Homo sapiens: one gene and its partner. The protein of the gene in region 1 interacts with the protein of each later gene in a pairwise test. Each region holds a gene or a part of one and is shown on either strand. Other genes may lie near its edges.

Region 1 (10,159 bases):
TGTGTGAAGGGACTCATTGCTGGAAGTGGGCTCCTTGCAGGAGTCTCTGGGGGCCCATTTTCTGTGTGTTAACCAAGGGAGAAACTGAGGCTCAGGGGCTGCTTGGTGACCTTCCCAAGGTCCTGAGGACAGGGAGGGGAGACTGGTCCACAGACTTGCCTCTCACTCCTCCCTCTGCCTCAGCCGTCCTGAGTCCCACTTTCTCCTTGGCCTTGCCTTCCCCCTCTGGTGCAGCCTCCCTGAGCCCCTCCCCCCAACTTCCCTCACTGATATCAGTGGCCCGCCCAGCCCCCCATCCCCAGCCCTGGTTGCTGCGGCTCAGAAGCTGCTGGCTCAGGAGCCTCCAGCTTTTGCTGAGTGAGCGAGTCCAGAGGTGCTGTCTTGGCACAAAACACCGCTGGCCGGGCCCTCGCCCTCCCTTCCCTCTCCAGGGTCCACTTTGGAGTGGAGAGTGTGGGTGGGGGCGGAATGAGGCCTCACACCACCTCCAGGGTCTTCAGCTTCAGGGAAGGGAGGGTCCTGAGGCCCAGAGAAGGGGGTGTTTGCCTGAGGTCACAAGGCAGGCCAGGGGAGAGCTGGGACTGCTCCCCACCAAGTCCAGGGGGACAGGAAGTGGGTCTGTCTTGTCCAAGCTGTTTGCAGAATCTTCCTGCCTCAGCCCTGCCTGCCCTGGCCTCATCCTTCCTCTCTGGTCCACCCTGAAAGGGGCAGAATTCGCATTAACTGTATCAGTGAAGGCAGCTCCTGCTTGAGTGCATCCGAGGTGTCAAGGTTTTACCCACACCTCCTCTGATCATTCAGTGACCTTTGAGGTAGGGCCATTGGAATAGGCTTCACTTAATACAAGTGGGACTCAACCCTGATGCATTTACAGTCACCTGTTAGACAAAGACGCTGACCACCTACTGTGTGCTGAGCACCTACTGCATGTGCCAAACACAGCCCTCAGCCCTGGGCTGGAAGGGGTGGTTGACAAAGAGTAATAAGCCTCTTGCCCCAAGAGACTTTGTGCTTGGACATTTGCCCTTGTAACAACACTGATGATAGCTGGTAGGGTCCCAGTTTTCAGATGGAAAGGCTGAGGCTCAAGTGGCAGGCACATTGCCCCGGGGCGGTTTCTGGACTCAGCTCTCCAGGCCTCAGGACCCCACCCTGAACCTGCTGATACCCTTGTTTGTCTCCAGCCCACCCCAGCCAGACCAGGGCCTCCCGCCGCCCCTTGCAGCTGTCCCGGTCCCCTGGAAGAGCACGGACCCCTGCCAAGGCCACAGGGAGTCCCCAGGAGCCCTGGTGGAGACCTCTGCAGGGGAGGAGGCCCAAGGCCAGGAGGGCCCCGCAGCCGCCCAGCTGGACGTGTTGCGCCTGCGCAGCTCTTCCATGGAGATCCGAGAGAAGGGCTCCGAGTTCCTGAAGGAGGAGCTGCACAGAGCGCAGAAGGTGGGTGCCTGCAGTAGGCTGGGGGGTCTTCGGTGGGGAGAAGTCAGGTTGGGAGAGCTGTGGGCTCTCATCAGGTGCCCAGAGATGTGCCCAAGGGAGAGGGATGTGCCCTCACCGAGGCCAGCTGCTGGCCAGGCCTGTACTGGGCGCACCGATGGTCACCCGTCTTGACTGCAAACGTGCCCTGAGCTCTGATGAACTGGCAGGCAGGGCTTCAGCTTCATGCTGTGGCTAAACGGAAAAAGCATCACAAACTGTCAGGCACCAGAGGAAATAAACTCTGAGCCCCACATAAAATGACGAGGGGATGGAACCTGGTCCGGTGGGCCTGGTCCCTCCCGTGCCAGGCCTGGGGATGCTGAGGTGCTCAAGTGCCTGCCTCTTTTCCTCCAGGAGCTGAAGCTAAAGGACGAGGAATGTGAGCGGCTGTCCAAGGTGCGGGAGCAGCTAGAACAGGAGCTGGAAGAGCTGACGGCCAGCCTGTTTGAGGTACACCGGCTGGGCGCGGGAACAACTTGGGGAATGGGTCATCTGGGCGTCCGTTGGCTCCTCACCACTCACGCAGGGACTGCCTTCTTCCTAGGAAGCTCACAAGATGGTTCGAGAAGCCAACATGAAGCAGGCGGCATCAGAAAAGCAGCTGAAGGAGGCTCGGGGCAAGGTGAGGCCCATCCCCGCCTGCCCAGGCCAGCCCAGGCACCCCCCCTGCCTCCCGGCTCAGCGAGCACTGAGCTTTGCTGCCCGAGTGGACGCTCACCTGGCCCGGTGGGGCCAGCAGGAATGGGTGAACCTAGGCCCAGGGAGGGAAGGGAAGGGTGGGGGTCTGAGATCACAGGGCCCAGTGTCCCGGGGCTCCATCAGTGATTCTGCTGCATGGCAGAGCCTTTTCTGGGATAGTGCTGGGGCTGGGAGGACCCTGTGATTATTGTACCTTCTTCCCTCTCCTCCCAGCCCCACTTTACAAAGCAGAAACCTCACTCAGTATGGCTGTCTGAGCCTGGGCAAGTCGCTTCCTCTCTCCAAGCCTGGTTGCCCATCTGCAAAATGTGAGGCCTGGGCCTTTCCTGGCTCCTGGGGGCGGTCCCAGAACTCTCATGGGAGGCCCAGCCAGCTCCCAGACACTTGTTCCTAACAGAATCCTGCTCACAGAGTGACCTTGGGCAGGCCATGTCGCCTCTGTGAGCCTCAGTTTCCCTATGTGTAAAACGAGTGTCTGGGTCTCTGCCTCGAAGGCTGTTCTGAGGGCGTCGGGTGGGACTAAGTGCCTGTCACTGCAGGGGTGCATTGTCCTGAGTTAGGCTGATAGGCGGTGGCAGCCAGGATGGCATCCAGTCTGGGTGAGGGTTGACAGCCATCCCATCCCATGCAGATCGACATGCTGCAGGCAGAGGTGACAGCCTTGAAGACGCTGGTCATCACGTCCACACCAGCCTCTCCCAACCGCGAGCTTCACCCCCAGCTGCTGAGCCCCACCAAGGCCGGGCCCCGAAAGGGCCACTCTCGCCACAAGAGCACCAGCAGCACCCTCTGCCCCGCCGTGTGTCCCGCTGCGGGACACACCCTCACCCCAGACAGAGAGGGCAAGGAGGTGAGGGTGGGAAGCGGGCTCTGGGCACGGGGAAGGGTGGCAGTGCCTGCGGTAGGCAGGGTCCGAGCCCAGTGAGGACCAGCCTGCCCCATGCTGTGTGACCTGGAGCCTGTCCTGCGCCTCTCTGGGATGTGAGGGCTGGGCAGGTCCTTTCTCTCCAACCTCCTGTGATCTGAGGCACTTGGCCTGCAGCCTCCAGGGTATACCATCTGGGGACCTGAGGCCCCCTCCCTGCCCCACTGACTCCAAGCAGTAGGTAGTGGTCTCTGCACCTGAGGCTGGCTTTGGCCCTGAGGATCTGGGGCCTCCACTGAGACACACACTTCCTTGGCCTTAAGAGGCCAAGCAGCAGCCACTGGGCCTCAGGGGAGAGGCTGCCTGGACCCCGTGTGGCCACAGCCTCGAGCCCCAGGACCACCTGGTGACAGCCCTGTGCTCAAGGGGTTTCTGGCACCCTCTGACTGTGGGGCTGAGACAAGCGTGGCCTTTGGAGAGGTGTCTCCGTCCCACCTCAGCTGGCCACACCAGTTGCTGGGCCCAGGCTGGGCTGACACTCATGGTCATGGGTCTGTAGGCAAATGAGGCCACCTGTCAGCACCTCAGCTTTCTCACCTGATAAATGGGGCCTCCCGGGGCTGCTGGAGGAACCAGAGACAGGGACATCAAGAGCTGAGTTCAAGGCTGCACCCAGGTAGTGCCTCAGAGGGCTGTGGTGCCTTCAGCTTCCTGGGTCCCTGGCGCCAGCCCACTCGACTCCATCCTGGCTTCCACCTCTGTCTCCAGGGCCTCCAGGGAAGACGAGCAGGCCCTCATCCACCTCCTGAGCTCTGAGCTTCTGAATGTACATTAACTTCTCCCCTTCCTCCTGTTCTGTCTCTGTGCACCTGTCTACCTGTCTGTCTGTCTGTCTGTCTGTCCATCCGGCCCAGCCCGGGCTGGCCCCGCTGCTCTCCCTGCTCCTCTGCGTGGTCCCCAGCAAGGCGGTTCACCTCACCTACGAGCCGGCCTGGCCGCTCCCACCTGGGGAGCCCCCAGCCCCTGCCTCCACTCCCTCTCCCTCCTTTTCCCGACAGGTAAATGGCTCCAAAGAGGGGCCTCCCACTTTGCCCCCTCCCAGCCTCCCTCATTCTGCATGTGGCCTGGAGCAGGCCAGCAGTCACCTCTGAGGTGTGGGCCCAGGGCAGCCTGTGTGTGTCCCCTCCTGTGTGCACGTGCTTGTGTGTGCTTGTGTACCTGCTGGTACCTGTGGCCTCCTGCTAGTTGCTCTTTGACTTTTCCTCCTCAAGGAGGCACTGAGGGTCTTCAGGACAAAGCCCTGCACCCCACTCTAAAATCCAGTAGCGCCAAGAAATTTAACACCGGCCTGGAAACAAAACTTTTAGTTCTAAATTCTTTGGTGCAAAGGGCAGAAGGGAGCTCTGCTGCTGCTGGACTTGGCTTCCCTGCACGGCTGCTGGGGATCGACCTGCTGGCTTGCTGGGCCTGCCCCACGTCCTCCCTCGCTCCCCTTCAGCTCAGCCTGCATCTTCTATGCTGGCCCCAGTACCCTGACCGCCCCCACCCTCGCTTGCCCTCCCCCACAGGTGGACACAATCCTGTTTGCAGAGTTCCAGGCCTGGAGGGAATCCCCCACCCTGGACAAGACCTGCCCCTTCCTGGAAAGGGTGTACCGAGAGGACGTGGGCCCCTGCCTGGACTTCACAATGCAGGAGGTGAGGCATGGCAGGGGCGGGGCCAGCTGGGGGACACACCCCTCCGCCAGGGCCCAGCCCCTTACCACCCTGCCTGCCTCCCTGGTCTGCCACAGCTCTCGGTGCTGGTACGGGCCGCCGTGGAGGACAACACGCTCACCATTGAGCCGGTGGCTTCGCAGACGCTGCCCACAGTGAAGGTGGCCGAGGTTGACTGTAGCAGCACCAAGTAAGCTGAGGGTCTTAGCTCCTTCCTGCCCATGTGGGAAAGCCCCGCCAAGCCGTGTGTTTACTGTGCCGAGGGGTGGTCAGGATGCAGCAGCGCCGACAGGACAGGGACAGTTGCTGCCCCCACAGGGCAAGGAGGCAGTTTGGCAGGTTTCCTGTGGACCCCCAGGCTTTCCAGAGAGGCCGGGAGCTAGGGTCTGCCTCTTCCTGACTGGTCTGCTCTGTGCCCTCCCCTTCTTTTCTTGAACCATGATTATCAGTTGCTGGCTGTGCCCCTGCCAATAAATAACGACGCAGTAGCCCTGGCATTTGTCCTCCAGCTACTCACCTGGCATTGAGCAGGGGAGCAGCAGAACAAAATAGCCAGGGTGGAGCAAGGGGCAGAAATTGGGGAGGATTTCACCTTGGCAGCCAAGAGCCTGGCTGGGGATGGCTGGTGCCCTGGTGGGAGGCTCATCACGGAGAGGGAGCATTTGAGCCAGGTTTTGAAGGATGAATAGAAGTTTGCCAAGCAGGGAAGGGCATTTCAGGCAGAGGGAACGGAATGTGCAAAGGTGTGAGAAGCTGGAGTATTAACGGAAGCACCACTGGGGCATCTGGCTAAGCAGTGGGGGGACAGGGAATTGGGGTGGAGGCTGCAGAGGCTGTTGGGGCCAGAGTATAAAGAGCCTTCACAGGTTTGGGCTTTAACCCACCAGCCAGTGCGGCAAAAGTCATCAATAGGCCGGGTGCAGTGGCTCACACCTGTAATCCCAGCACTCTGGGAGGTTGAGGCGGGTGGATCACTTGAGGTCAGGAGTTTGAGACCAACCTGGCCAACATGGAGAAAACCCCATCTCTACTAAAGATATAAAAGTTAGCCGGGTGTGGTGGCACACGCCTGTAATCTCAGCTGCTCGGGAGGCTGAGTCAGGAGAATTGCTTGAGCCTGGGAGACGGAGGTTGTGGTGAGCTGAGATTGCACCACTGCACTCCAGTCTGGGTGACAGAGTGAGACCCTGTCTCAAAAAAAAAAAAAAGTCATCAATAGCTGCCACCTGAAAAGAGGCTCTCTGGTCCATCAGAGAGTCCCAGTGAACCAGGAGGCAACAAATGCTCTGATAAGTCCGCAGCCAAGGAGCTTTTTAAACCTTCATTTATTTGGGATTCTCCCCATTTCTTGGGAATTAGGAAAGCAAGAGAGAAAGATGATGGGTTAGATGTGGGTTTTTGGAGGAGCCCTGGCTCTGATGTGGAGAAGAAAGAGAGCGATGAGGCAGAGAGCTGGCCAGAAGGAGCCAAGGGGATGCAGGCCAAAAGTACTGCTGCTGTGCCCTGGCCTGGGGACTTGGTGACCAAGCAGAGGGTGAGGAGGAGAGAGCCGAGCAGATGATGGCCAGTGAAGAGCAGGTTTGGGGAGTGGGGCCCAGATGGGGGTTGCTCAGGGCCTGTGGAGACCCTTCATGTGGGTGGCTGAAGATGCTGAGCGACGTCATGCAGGACTGGGGGGAGGAGAGAAGAGGGCATGGGAGAAGGCTCTTAGACGGGGTTGGTTGGCATGCGGCTGAGAACCATGGGGGTTAGTGGGGTCAGAAGGCCTGCATGGATGAAGCAGGGGAGCTGCTGGATGTTGGGAAGCGGGAGGCAGCCAGACCTCAACTCTGGCCTAGTTGGGGGAGGAGTGCCTGGTCTGAGTCCCCAGAAGTAGAGGGAGAGGCATATGCAGAGCCTGCAGAGGGTGGGACTTTGTACACCTGGCATGAGATTAACCAAGCTCTCTTGCCCAGTAGGGGCAAAACAAGGGTTCTAGGGGTACAGCTCAGCTTAGTTCGAGGTCTGTCCCAGGGATGGCTGGGGCCAGCTCCCTTCTCTGCCTGGCTCTGGGTTCCTTTGGAAGCCGGGTGGGGGAAGGGAGGCCTGCCCCTCCCCATGCATCCTCTCAGCTGCTGCATCTTCCCTGTATGCAGGGGTGAGGGAGAGGGGCAAGCCCCAGCCAGCCCCCGTGACCCATTTTGCTTTCCCCTAGCACATGTGCCCTGAGCGGGCTGACCCGCACCTGCCGCCACCGAATCCGGCTCGGGGACTCCAAAAGCCATTACTACATCTCGCCATCTTCCCGGGCCAGGGTGAGTCAGCCTTTGCAAGCGTTACTTGACTCCTTTGGGGCCACCTGGGTGCTGGGACACTGGGCCCTGGGCCTGGGAGTATGAATAGCACTACACCTTGATTTACTTATTTTATTTATTTATTTTTTGAGACAGAGTCTTTGTCACCCAGGCTGGAGTGCAGTGGCACAATCTCAGTTCACTGCAATGTCTGCCTCCCAGGCAGACATTAGCAATTCTCCTGCCTCAGCTTCCCAAGTAGCTGGGATTACAGGCATGTGCCACCACGCCCAGCTAATTTTGTATTTTTAGTAGAGATGGGGTTTCACCACGTTGGCCAGGCTGAACTCGAACTCCTGGCCTTAAGTGATCTGCCTGCCTCGGCCTCCCAAAGTGCTGGGATTATAGGTGTGAGCCACCACGCCCAGCCTTACATCTTGATTTACAGAGCAGGGTACAGGCTCAGAGAGGCGCAGAGACTGACTCGGGCCACACAGCCAAGCCAAGGGCAGTGGTTTGCTATTACGGTGTAACAAATTACTATCAACCTGGTAGCTTAAAATAGCGCAGTTCCCCATGTTGGAGTCTAAGCACTACTTACTTACTGGATTCTCTGCTCAGGGACTTGCAAGGTCGCAGTAAGCTGTCAGCAGACTGTGTTCCTTTCTGGAAGTCAGGGTCCTCCTCAAAACTCACATTGTTGGCAGCATTCAGTTCCTTGTGTTTGAAGGACTGAGGCCCCTATTTTCTTGCTGGCTGCTGGCAAGGGGACACCCTCAGCTTCTAGAGGACACCCGCAGTCCCCTGCCACAGGGCCTTGTTGCACAGGGCAGCTGACTTCAGAGCCATCAGGAGGGCCACTCTCCAGTCGGCTGAGATGCAGCCTTATGTATGAAATGTCATGGGATGACATCGCCCCCCTCTGTCATTCAATGTCACCTAATCCAGGAGTGATGCTAGAGTTCCAGTTAGAGTGCGGGGCTCCTGACGCCCAGACTCAGGTGCTGGCCGAAGCTTTGGAAAAGGTTCAGCGGTGCGTCTGGTGCACCAGCCTTAAGTCGGCCGTGAGTGCCAAGGGGCCTCTAGGAATCCCAGCTCCCACCCTCCCCTGCCGAGTGACCCAGACCAGGACAGGGGTTCTCACCAAGCTGGGGATTGAGGACAGGGATTCCTCTTCCTCTGTCCCTCTGTTGACTCTTAAGAGGATTGAGGGGAACAAGAGAACATGTTTGGAAACACGTTTCCAGTGACACAGCTTGAGGAACCATCTCAGGCCTGCTAGAGGCTCCTCGCAGGGGAGCAGGTCTAAAGGGGACAAATGGTCCCTTTGCTGGCAGCAGACTATACTGTCCTTGATGAACTCCACAAGGCATCCGAGCGTGAGTCCTCCCAGCGGTGTGCTGAGCACCCATTTACCAAAAGGGAGGCTGAGCCTTGGCAGAGGAAAGGGGTGTGTTCAGGGCCACACACCGAGACCTGGGATCCTGGCTCTGAGTCCACTGCAGCCCCTACCCTGTGGATTTGTGCCCACTGAGCCTTGTTCAGTGGCCACTTATCTCCATCACCGCTTTCCAGGCCCAACCATGGCTCAACAGCAGGCCCCACAAAAGATGTTCCCGTGCTCAACAATGTCACCTCTAGCACTTTAAGTCCCTGGCCTGGGTGTCCTGCTGCACTGGATGAAGCTGGGGGTGGGAGATGAGGTGAGGAGGGTCTGAAGTTTTAGGATGTGGTCCCTGCCCTGAAAGACCAAGACATGTGGGGTCCACAGGGAGAAGTGTTTTCTCCCTAGCACACTCCCTGGAGAGGGAAAGCCCCCTCCCTGCTACTCCCTGCTCATGAGCCTCTGTGGGCATCCACTGTCCCTGCTCCTGTCCTGAGCTCTGCCCTGCCCCACCCTCCTGCCGCAGCCTCTCCTCAACCCTCCCTGTGCAGCGGTGTCCCTGCCACGACGGGCTGGTCCCCCGACCTCGCCCCGCTCTCTCGCACCTCCCTATCTTTGCCAGGCCACCACCGTCCCGCCCCTCCCCGAAGCTTCTCCACTCCCCAGCCTGCGGGTGCCCCTCTCACTTGATGTCCCTCCCCAGGAGTGTTGGACATTCAGTAGGGGCTGTTGCGGGCGGGCACAGCCGCCGGCTACCTTCCACCCTGTCTTAGGCTGGGTTCCGAAGAGGCAGAGCCTCACCTGGAGATTGTGTGCAGCTCCCAGGAGAATGAGGGAAGGGACGGGGGAGTCCAGCCAGGATGTGGCCTTAGCTACAGCCCAGCTTCAGCCCCATCCACCGGGCTCTTAGCAGAGTTGATTCCACCCTGAGGCAAGGGGACTGTCCTTTCTATCTCCACACAAGTCAGTCATCGGCTGAGGTCTACAGGAGGAGTGAGTACAGAGGGGGGCACCTCTGAGCCATTAGTGCCCCCACTCTCAGCAGCTGGGAGATGGGGCCCGGGCCTGGGAAGGGGCCCTGGGCCAGGCACCAACAGTACCCTCTCCGTGGTGTGAGTCCTCATAGCAGTGTCTGAGCCAACACAGGGTCCCCGGGGCCTGGCATGGAGCAGGCCTGAGGCCCCAGGGGCCCCGGGCAGCCCAGGTGAGCGGCTTCTGACCCCCTTTCCTTTCCCAGTGTTATCAGTAGCACTGGACTGAGGCCTGGCTGGCCCAAAACTCCAGCATCTGGAGCAAGCCGGCCTGTGAGAGGGCGAGTGTAGACTCCGGGACAGCCTGCCCGGTTCATCTCACAGCTCTGCTGCATGCTGGTTCATTAGCTCCGCCATCTCCGTGATGGATGTCAGCGGCTTTCCCCGGGTGGCTCCGCTTTCCCCCATGTAAGATGGAATAATAAGCGCGTCTGCTCCGTTCGCTGCAGGCGCTTGATGAAATGGCTGCTGCTGCTGCTGCTGCTATTACAGCAGGGCTAGTCATGCTGTTGTTGATTACTACTTGAAAGCCCAGTCCCAGCTGAGTCAGGGAGCACTGCCTGGCTCTGCAGGGACCTGGGGCCTCCTGCTCTGGACTCAGATCCGCCTGTCAGGGGACCCCCAGCGTGGGGCTGGCAGGTCACACCGTCCCCACCTCTGCCCACAGATCACCGCAGTGTGCAACTTCTTCACCTACATCCGCTACATCCAGCAAG
Region 2 (10,746 bases), on another chromosome or scaffold:
ATGCACCACCACGCCTGGCTAATTTTTGCATTTTTAGTAGAGACGGGGTTTCTTCATGTTGGTCAAGCTGGTCTCAAACTCCCAAACTCAGGTAATCTGCCCACCTCAGCCTCCCAAAGTGCTGGGATTATAGGTGTGAGCCATTGTGCCCAGCCAGGCAGGCCACTCATTCTAATACTGTCTTGTCAGGCCTTTTCTGTTGACTTCAATCCCACAGTTGTGGTTTTCTGTCTTCTAGTTTTCTCTAAAATTCAAATAAATGAATTTAAAAGTTTTCCTGTCAGCCTGATTATCCCTATAGCCAGCGAAGGTTTTCAGAGAATGGGGATAGAATGGAGAAAAAAGGGGAGTGGCTCCAACCTACCTCCAGATGATTCTGACACCAAACATAGGTCCTGCCCTGTATTCTTCCCAGCAGACCCGAGGTCAGCAGATGTGTCGCCACCCACCAAGTTCATACCCTGGCTCCCAACTTGTCAGCAGAGCCAAGGAACAAGCATTAAGGGAAGGCAGTAGAGACTTTCATCTACTATAGGGAGGACATTACCCATCAGTGCATTTCCTGTCCTTGGCTATTCTGTTGGGATTTTTCTTTTTTCCAAATCTTTGTTTCCCTTTTTTCTATGTTTTCTTTTCTTGTGCAGTCTTCCCCTAGTTGTTTTTTTTGTTTGTTTGTTTTGTTTTGAGACGGGGGTCTCACTCTGTCACCCAGGCTGGGGTACAGTGGTACAATCATGGCTCACTGCAGTCTCATCCTCCCCAGGCTCAGGTGATCCTCCCACCTCAGCCTCCCGAGTGGCTGGGACTACAGGCACACGCCACCATGCCCAGCTGATTTTTGTATTTTTTGTAGAGACTGAGCTTCACCATGTTGCCCAGGCTGGATTTTTCCTAATTTTTAAAAACATTTTTTTTTTCACATGGAGTCTCGCTCAGTTGCCCTGGCTGGAGTGCAGTGGTGCAATCTCAGCTCACTGCAGCCTCTGCCTCCCGAGTTCAAGCCATTCTCCTGCCTCAGCCTTCTGAGTAGCTGGGATTACGGGCACACGCCACCATGCTCAGCTAGTTTATGTATTTTTAGTAGAGACAGGGTTTCAGCATGTTGGTCAGGCTGGTTTTGAACTCCTGACCTTGTGATCCGCCCGCCTCAGCCTCCCAAAGTGCTGAGATCACAGATGTGAGCCACCACGCCTGGCCTAAAACATTTTTTTTTTTAAGAGACAAGGTCTCACTCTGTTGCCCAGGCCAGAGTACAATGCTGCAATAATAACTCACTGTAGCCTCAAACTTCTGGGTCAAGCAATTCTCTCACCTCAACCTCTTGTGAAGCTGGGACTAGAGGCATGTGCCATCAGCCTGGCTTATTTTCTTTTTTTTTTTCATAGCAACAAGGTCACACTATGTTCCCCAGGCTGGTCTCAAGCAGTCCTCCCACCGCGACCCCCTAAAGTGTTCGAAATATAGGCATGAGCCACCGAACCTGGCCAATTTCTCCTTTTCTTTAAGTGTCCTTGTTTTCCTGTGTTCTCCTTGTGGATCTGCCTTTTTTTTTTTTTTTTGACAGGTTCTCACTCTGTCACCCAAGGGAGTGCAATGGTGCCATCTCAGCTCACTGCAACCTCCACCTCCTGGGCTCAGGTGATTCTCCTGACTCAGCCTCCCAAGTAACTGGGACCACAGGTGTGTGCCACCATGCCTGGCTAATTTTCATGTTTTTTGTAGAGACGGGGTTTCACCATGTTGCCCAGGCTGGGCTCAGGGGATCTGTCTGCCTTGGCCTCTCAAAGTGCTGGAATTACAGGTGTGAGTCACTGCACCCGGCCCGTTTTTTTTTTGTTTTTTTTGTTTTTTTTTTTTTTGTGAGATGGAGTCTTGCTGTGTTGCCCAGGCTGGAGTGCAATGGTGCGATCTCGGCTCACTGCAACCTCCCAGGTTCAAATGATTCTCCCTCCTCAGCCTCGAGGATAGCCGGGATTACAGGCACCGGTCATCATGCCCAGCTAATTTGTTTATTTTTGTAGAGAGAGGGTTCCACCATGCTGTCCAGGCTGGTCTTGAACTCCTGACCTCAGGTGATCTACCCGCCTCAGCCTCCTAAAGTGCTGAGATTACAGGTGTGAGCCACTGCATCCAGCCTCCCTGACTCTTTATTACCTTTTATTCTGTTTCTAAGTACTTAAGTCCTGTCTCCTTGGCCAAGCCAGACTAGGCCCAACACCCTCAATTCACCCTGGCTCCAAAGAGGGCAAAAGCAACTCTCTTTCTCTAAGGCCAGGGAAGTATCTACCACAATCTCTGAAACCTGTGAACTTTTCTGTGGGCCTGTAGTTTCAAGTCCCACCTTAACTGTCCTTAAAAAAAAAACCAAACAATGACCTACCTAATCCATCTAATTTCTCAACTAACTGCCACCATCTCTACTATATCCACCTGCATCCTATTTCACTGTACATGTCAGGAATCTTTCTTCTCACCCCATTCCATGTTTGACCAGATTCCCTCTGCAAGTGTTCTACCAGAGCCACAGCCTCCTCAATGCTCTGTGGATGGTGCTTCTGCATCTGGGTCTGTGTCTCCCTGGGCAGAATAGTCAGGAACTGCTCCAGCACCAGCAGTTCCAGTATCTGCTCTTTTGAGTGGATCTCTGGCTTCAGCCATAGATGACATAATTCTTGAAGTTTGCTGACAGCCTCACGGGGTCCACCTGCTTCATCATAGGTGAAATTCCGGAAGTGCCAGCAAGAGCTCTTAGGATCGAGACAGTCCATTTGAGGAGATTTTTTACTCTGACCGGAGCTCTCTCTTGCAGGCCCCTTGGTCTCCCACAAAGCCCTGATCTGAGGGTCCAAGTACGCAGCCACTTTCAGATCTACCATCATCATTCTGCTCTAGGAAGTTCTGCTCCTGTGTTAAGACACCCAATTGGTACCACGTTTAACAAATGAGATCCTGTCTGGTCTTGTACAAAAGCAATAAAAGGATCTTCTTCCTAAAAGCACTGAGGACAAGAAAAAGAAAAGTATGTATCAATAAGAAACTCACATGAACCTCATCACTTGCGACTTATGAGAGAAAGAAGAACAGAAAAGGTGTCCTGTCTTCCCTTCAAAATCAACTAGCAGGCCCTTTGTTTTTCTCCTTTTCTATTATTCAGCTGAAGCACAGCACAAAACACACAAATGTCAGTGGACAACTGTCTTTTTTATAAAAAAGAAAACAATTTAGGAAAGATTGGTGGGTAAGAAAATTGGCACCCACTGGCTGAAAGGTATTTTGGGATTTTCCAAGGATTTAACTGGTGTGCCTCCTATCCCATCTTCCCCATAAGAAAAGAATAGGAGAAAATAAGATTAGGAAAACATTCTGAGATTCTCTTAAATTTCAACAGATCATCCCAGTCTGTCTCTAGTAAGGGGAGTACAACTTTTATGACCCTTCATCCTCTTGTGAAGATGGAAGCCTTCACTTTAAAAATATTTTAGGCCAGGTGCAGTGGCTCATGCCTGCATTCCCAGCACTTTTGGAGACCGAGGTGGGAGGATCACTTGAGCCAGGAGTTTCAGACCAGCCTGAGCAACATAGCGAGACCCCGTCTCTACAAAACACAAAATTTGAAGAAAAAAAAAAAAAATAGCCAGGATGGTAGAGCACACCAGTAGTTCTAGCTCAGGAGGCTGAGGTGGGAGAGTCGCCTGAGCCCAGGAATTCAAGGTTGCAGTGAGCCATGACCTCATCACTGCACTCCAGCCTGGGAGTTAGAGCAAGACTTTGTCTCTAATTTAAAAACTAAAAATAAAGGCACCTTAAAAAACAACATTTTAGATTTTCCATTGTAGGAATACTGGCAAAAGAGCTGAGACGGTGAGATCAAAATACAGTAGTATCCCTTCTCCAAGGGGGGTAAGTTCCAGTACATTCTGTGAATACCTAAAACCCCCAACAGCATCTAACTGCATTATACTATTTTCTCTATGTATACATAGCTATGATACCTTAATTTATAAATTAGGTACAATAAGAGATTAACAATAAAACACTGTAGTAAGAGTTATTTAAAACTGGCGGTGCGCCGTGGCTCATGCCTGTAATCCCAGCACTTTGGGAGGCCTGACGTGGGTGGATCACCTGAGACCAGGACTTCAAGACCAGCCTGGCCAACATGGTGAAACCTTCTTTATTGTAAACACAAAAATTAGCCAGGTGTGGTAGTGCGCGCCTGTAGTCCCAGCTACCCAGGAGGCTGAGGCAGGAAAATTGTTTGAACCCGGGAGGTGAAGGCTGCAGTGAGCTCAGACTGTGCCACGGCACTCCAGCCAGGGCAGCAAAACGAGATTCCATCTCCAAAAAAAAAAAAAAAAGTTATTTAAAACTTATGAACTGTTTATTTCTGGAGTTTTCCATTTAATATTTTTTGGATGGCAGTTGACAGCGGGTAAGTGAAACCCAGATACAGTGGGGGGAGGGGGTACTACAGAAAGTAAAAAAGTAGCCTATTTTCAGACAATGTCTCCCAAGTAAGCAACAAGATGCTCATCATTCTTTGCAACACACATAAAGGGTGCCATGCAGATGATTTATACGAATTTTGTTTTTTTTTTTGAGATGGAGTCTCGCCCTGTCACCCAGGCTGGAGTGCAGTGGCGTGATCTCAGCTCACTGCAACTTCCACCTCCCCGGTTGAAGCCATTCTCCTGCCTCAGCCTCCCGACTAGCTGGGATTACAGGCGCGTGCCACCATGCCCGGCTAATTTTTGTGTTTTTAGTAGAGACAGGGTTTCACCATCTTGGCCAGGGTGGTCTCGATCTCCTGACCTCGTGATCCACCCATCTTGGCCTCCCAAAGTGCTGGGATTACAGGCGTCAAACACCGCGCCAGGCCTATATGAATTTTTAACTGTGCTTACTTGATCTGGAGAAAATTACAGCTGACCTCTGTTTACAAAATATCAACTTGTAAAAAAGGATATTTTATTTACAAAATATCAAGTCGTATTTTCTTTCTGTCGCTGATGTTTATGAAATATCAACTCCAACAGGAGTTGGTGACGATGAAAGTGAAACTTTCTGCTGACTTTGTATTTCTCCAAAGGTCATTTAGACTTCTAAGGGGGGCTGAGGAGAGCCGTGAGCCTCACTTTTCCTGAAGTGAGCCAGCAGAAACGGCACCGAAATTCTGCCCAGGATGCCACCGGTATTCAAAGAAGTGGCCAGCTCCTTGCTGCCCACCCCGGTTCCAGAAGCAAAGAGACACTTCCTATGTTTTTGCATCAGTAGAAGCTGCTAGCCCTGAGGCTCAACCGACCGCATGACATCGGCCGGACACGGAAATGCCGGCGGAGGCGGGAAAGAGTCTGCGGGCGCAGCTGCAGGCACTGCTGCCCGCCAGCACTCGGATTCGCCACAGCCTGTGTCTGCGACAGGCGTGCCCGTGGGCACTGGGCAAGCGGGCAGTGTCCCAGCGAGCTTCAGCCGCGCCTCTGGGATACAGCTGCGAAAAGCGGGGAGAGAATGGTTTCTCGTGCCCGACGGTGGCCCCGCCTCAGGCTCCAGCCGCGCGGCCCGGAAGCGCCGCGGCCACCGCCTACGGAAAATGGCTGCCTCCCTGCGGCCGCCGCCGCTCCAGCGGCTCCAGGGTCGAAGCCATAGGGGAAGCCGCTTCTCGGTTACCTCGGCCAGCTTGGCTTCCGTGGAGGCCGCTCCTCGCTTTCTGAGGCTCAAACGCAAGCCACCGCCCGAAAGGCCGCCGATCTGAGGAGCGCAACCGCCAGCCCACCGCTGGCCTACCGCAGCCCTGTCCAGGTACAGAGCCAGAGCGCCGGCCGGAAGTGGAAGTGACGCTTTCCGAGGGTGGCGCAGGCCCGCCCTCTGGCTAAGGCGCCTGAGCCCGGCCTACTTCCTCGCCAGAGAAACTGCTGTCTTCCCCGGCGGTAGGGAAGGGTTAATGCCACCGAGTATCCAGACCCGCTGAAGCCTAGAGGGCCTTGTACCGGCTCACCGCGTGGCTGTCGCTGTCTCGTGTCCCCAGTGGGGGAGGCGTCGCACTGCCGCGTCTGTTCTGCGTGGCTGTCGGGCGGCGTTTGGTCCCGGGAGCCTCGCCGGGTAAGGGTCGCCTCCCAGCTGCGCGCGCCGCGTTCTCGGGCTTCCCGCGGCCCGGCCGGCCGTGCTCGAGCTGTTGCTGGGCTCGTCGCCGCCTCCTCGAGGAAGAGGCATTTTGTCCGGGTCGGGCCACTCGCTAGGTCAGAAACAGCGGCCCCCCGAGGGTTTTGTACCGTTTTCTAGGTCTCGTGACGCATTCCCCACAACTATTTTTTCTTGAGGTAGGTTTGAACCTGTGAAATAGGTTCTTTTTCTATCTCTCCTTGACAGAGAAACGGAGACCTAAGAAGTGACTTGCTCAGGGTCACATAGCTCAGCAGTGGCGGCCGCTAATCGGAAATAGCTCTCCTGTTGTGGTATCCTCTGCGTTTTCCACTCCAGTATTCTTCCCTGGAAAATGGGAACCTTGTTTTCATCTTATATCTCATGCAGCGCCTAACATAGTCACCTGGTAAGATAGGCATTCCACACATATTTACTGAATCATAGTTATAAGAATCTGAGTGTTTTGGGTGTTCAGTGATCTCTGAATTAATCCGTTTTTGTAATGTCAGTCTGTACCAGTTGAGGGATTATTTAATAAGTCCAGTATGAGTGGTTTCGGAATTACCAGTTTTTGTAACGTCAGCTTATACCAGTCAAGGGACTATTTATTAAGTCAGCTATGTGTAGCCAATATTGCAGAGTTGAGTAAGAAGTCTTTGTCCTTAAGCAATCTCTTGAAAGGACTGAGCAATTTCGTGAATATCAGTAACACAAGGGTAAGAATAGGACATAAACTGAATGCTGTGAGAACTCCAAGAAAATCCAAGTTGATTTGGGGTTGGGGGAAATTATAAAAGACCTTGAGGGATTTTGTCCACAGCAGGGAATGGAGACACTTTCCAGGCAGAGGGAAGGGTAGGAGTAAAGGCTTTAAAAGCTGGAAACATTAGACTGTGAGATCTTAGGTACGTTTTTACTGAGTTGGGCTGCATTTAGAGGAAGAGTTTTAAAAGTTAGAAAACGAGTTTATGTGGCACTTATACTGGAGTCCTTTGAATGGGAATGAAAAGAGTGCATTTAAGAAAGTAAATCCTGGCCGGGCGCGGTGGCTTACGCCTGTAATCCCAGCACTTTGGGAGGCCGAGGCGGGCGGATCATGAGGTCAGGAGATCGAGACCATCCTGGCTAACATGGTGAAACCCCGTCTCTACTAAAAAATACAAAAAAAAATTAGCCGGGCGTGGTGGTGGGCGCCTGTAGTCCCAGCTACTCGGGAGGCTGAGGCAGGAGAATGGCGTGAACCCGGGAGGCGGAGCTTGCAGTGAGCCGAGTTCACGCCACTGCATTCCAGCCTGGGCGACAGAGCGAGACTCCGTCGCAAAAAACAAAACAAAACAATACAAAAAAGTAAATCCTGGAGCACCATTTGAGCGTTTTGGACTGAGCTGCTTTCTATGGCAGTTCATCTAAGGTAAGTTTAAGGTGAGAATGAAGATGAGAGGCCATTACCAGGCCATTATGCTATTTTTGCTTTTGGATGGGATGGTATGTAACTCCTCTTAGGCATAGATCTTGATCCTTTTTAAGTGAGAGAGAAAGATAAACAGATTTAATAATGAGCATCTGCCTAAGTCACTTGAATTTGTGTCTAAGTAGGTTCATTTCCTTAAAATCTCAGCCAGGTTGGGACTTCATTTCTTCAGCAGTAAATATTCTCAGTCTATCAGAACCAGTGGACAGTAGCGCCATCAGCATTAAGATTCTCATCACCTGGCCCAATGCTGAATATATAATTAGAATTTATTAAGTTGAATAAGTGAAGTTCTGCTAGCAGTGCTAAGCAGTGCCCTTGGATATCATTGACAGGCCTGATTCATAACACAGGAAGTTGGTTAAAGGGAAAAGGGATTCATGGGAAAAAGAGGCAGCAAGGCACAAATTGTGAATAGTGAATAAGAGGCACTGGTGATTTTCATTGTGTGAGGTTTGCTGCCATAGTGGCTTATCCTTTGAAGCCCACAAACATTCCTTGAGCCTTTCCTTTTGGTTTCACCTCCCCTTGCTTGGGCACTGTTTTAGAAATGATGACTGTGGCTGGGCGCAGTGGCTTACACCTGTAATCCCAGCACTTTGGGAGGCCTAGGTGGGTGGATCACTTGAGGTCAGGAGTTCGAGACCAGCCTGGCCAACATGGCAAAACCTTGTCTGTACTAAAAATATAAAAATTAGCGGGGCATGGTGGTGCGTGCCTGTAATCCCAGCTACTTAGGAGGCTGAGGCACGAGAATGGCCTGAACCCTGGAGGCAGAGGTTGCAGTGAGCCGAGATTGTGTCACTGCACTCCAGCCTGGGCGACAGAACCAGACCCCATCTCAAAAAAAAAAAAAAAAAAAAAAGACGACGGCACAGCTGAGAAGCATTGAAAGCAAATACATTAATTCTGAGACACCTACACAACTGTCATAGTGGCCTGAATATTTTTGCTAGGTGACTAGCTTGAGTTAATGGTGCTGCTATTGGCTAGCAAATACTTTTTTATTTTTCTATTTATAAGTGAAAGAGATAAACCAAGATTTATGTCTGAGTTATCACTTACTAACTGCCTTAATTATAGTTGCCTCATTTAGAAAGTTGCTTGATCGTAGCCTGCCATTGGCTCCACCCCCTAATTACTACCATATTCTCTTGTAATCTTCTCCATGCTCTATAACTCATAGTTGGCATTTCTTGCAATGAATGTTACAGGAAAACCAGTGGTCTGACTCTTCTGGGTTTTTAGATGAGAGACCTAAGAGAATTCTATGGGCCAGGTGTGGTGGCTCACGCCTGTAATCCCAGCACTTTGGGAGGCTGAGGCGGGCGGATCATGAGTTCAGAAGTTCGAGACCAGCCTGGCCAACATAGTGAAATCCTCTTTACCAAAAAAATACAAAAATTAGCCGGGTGTGGTGGCACACACCTGTAGTCCCAGCTACTCAGGAAGCTGAGGCAGGAGAATTGCTTGAACCCGGGAGGCAGAGGTTGTAGTGAGCCGAGATGGCGGCATCGCACTCCAGCCTGGGTGACAGAGCAAGACTCTGTCTCAAAAAAAAAAAGAGAGAGAATTCTATGTAGTTGAGGAATGAATGGGCCAGTCAGATTCTGCCCTAAAGAAGAGGAAGAATAACTGAGATACCAGCCATTTCCCTTATTTCTCTGACATACTTTTCTTTCTTCGTAGCACCTGGAATGGATAAAAGTGGCAGTTTTTGTTTCTTCCCATGAGGTTGTGTATCTGGACTGAGAACCAGGAAATTAATCTAGACTAAGACATTTCTAAGGACCTGGAATGGCTTTGGGGAGCACCAGGAGGACCCGAAAAGAGTATTTGAGGGCCTAGAGGGACAGAAGAGTTTGCCAGTAGGATTTATGAGAAACAATTGATCAGAAACAGCAGCAGAGAAACCTTTTAGATTTCTTCTGTGGAAAAGTTGAGTCTTGGTTCAAATTAAGTAAAATAAACACTGAAGAGAAATCAAAATCTCAAATATAAAAAGTATGTTACTTATAGTGTAAATTTAGGAAAACAAATGAAAGGACAGATCTTTAAAAATTTTTAACTATGGTGAAATATTTGTAAAACTTTTGGGCTCATCTCTGAGAATTGCTGTGATTCTGAAACTTGATAATATCTCAAATAGAGAACAGTTTCAGTGAAAAATAGCACTTGAGAATAAATCAGATGTTCCCAAGAAAGAAGATCTGAGAATGGTAAAGTGCCACTGACAAATAAATTATTTACATACTTACATATTACCTTGGCAAACACAAGAGACATTCAAGTTAAAGCACGGTGCTTGACAATACTATATTGAATGCAATAAAAGTTGGATTTCATTCATATGTACAACAAACTACTTTCTTCTTCACTTCAAGATTCGGTACAACTGTTCCTGAATTCCAACTCTCCATACATCCCAATGTCAGGGTCCCTGTAGCTCGGAGCCCTTATCCAGGTAGATGAACTGCTGCCCAGTGAACACTATGTACAAAGCAATTTGAGCACCATTCTCTTTTCTGGCAGTGAGGTAAAATCAGGTCTTTTTGGAAGGGGAGAAGCCACATTGCATCTCTGCTACACACAAGATTACTCTGTCATTGCCTTTGAGTCTTTCACGCTCCCTTCTTCTGAAGCATCAGTTTTTATGGAAACTTATCACACCTGTCTTGTGGGCACATCTTGCTCCATCCCTCCTCTCTTCATATTGTCCGTTTTCCGGTATTGAGTTAGGGAAAGTATGCAGGTATTCCTGTCATTCCTGACTGAGGCTGTTGTATCTGTCAAAAGAGAGGAGAGGTAGGGGGCATTCTGAAAAATGATCACTCATGGCTTGCAGGAGCAAGAGCCAGACAGGACTTTGCAACTGGCAGCTTTCTGAGTGCATAAGACCTCCACCTCTAGACTAGCTCTTCAGTCATGGTTAGCCCCTTCAGTCCATTATCCTCCAATACAATGCCCATGCCTTCTGGGGCTTTCAGCTAAGTTTTGTTTAAAAAATGTGGGTTTTTTTTTTGCCAATTCATTAAGGCTTTTCCCTTTGTTTTCTCCTGTTGGTGGTTCAGAGTTAAATTCAGTATGAATAAGAGAGGGAAATATACAACACTGAATTTGGAGGAGAAAATGAA

What was found.
Region 2: the proteins of RAB3IL1 (region 1) and TIGD7 interact in binary tests that used the Homo sapiens proteins (3 or more experiments, as listed by UniProt).

Annotation. Positions count from the first base shown.
Region 1 is NC_000011.10:61,899,332-61,909,490, reverse strand, and holds part of RAB3IL1 (guanine nucleotide exchange factor for Rab-3A), read left to right. Parts: intron 1-1,184; coding exon 1,185-1,437; intron 1,438-1,830; coding exon 1,831-1,926; intron 1,927-2,020; coding exon 2,021-2,098; intron 2,099-2,388; coding exon of another isoform or gene 2,389-2,483; intron 2,484-2,806; coding exon 2,807-3,025; intron 3,026-4,608; coding exon 4,609-4,737; intron 4,738-4,832; coding exon 4,833-4,945; intron 4,946-6,949; coding exon 6,950-7,049; intron 7,050-10,110; coding exon 10,111-10,159. UniProt on the Homo sapiens protein: Guanine nucleotide exchange factor (GEF) which may activate RAB3A, a GTPase that regulates synaptic vesicle exocytosis. Promotes the exchange of GDP to GTP, converting inactive GDP-bound Rab proteins into their active GTP-bound form.
Region 2 is NC_000016.10:3,300,565-3,311,310, reverse strand, and holds the start of TIGD7 (tigger transposable element-derived protein 7), read left to right. Parts: upstream 1-5,880; 5' UTR 5,881-6,099; intron 6,100-9,301; 5' UTR 9,302-10,696; coding exon 10,697-10,746. Other genes in the region: ZNF75A (zinc finger protein 75A), read right to left, coding at 2,475-2,882.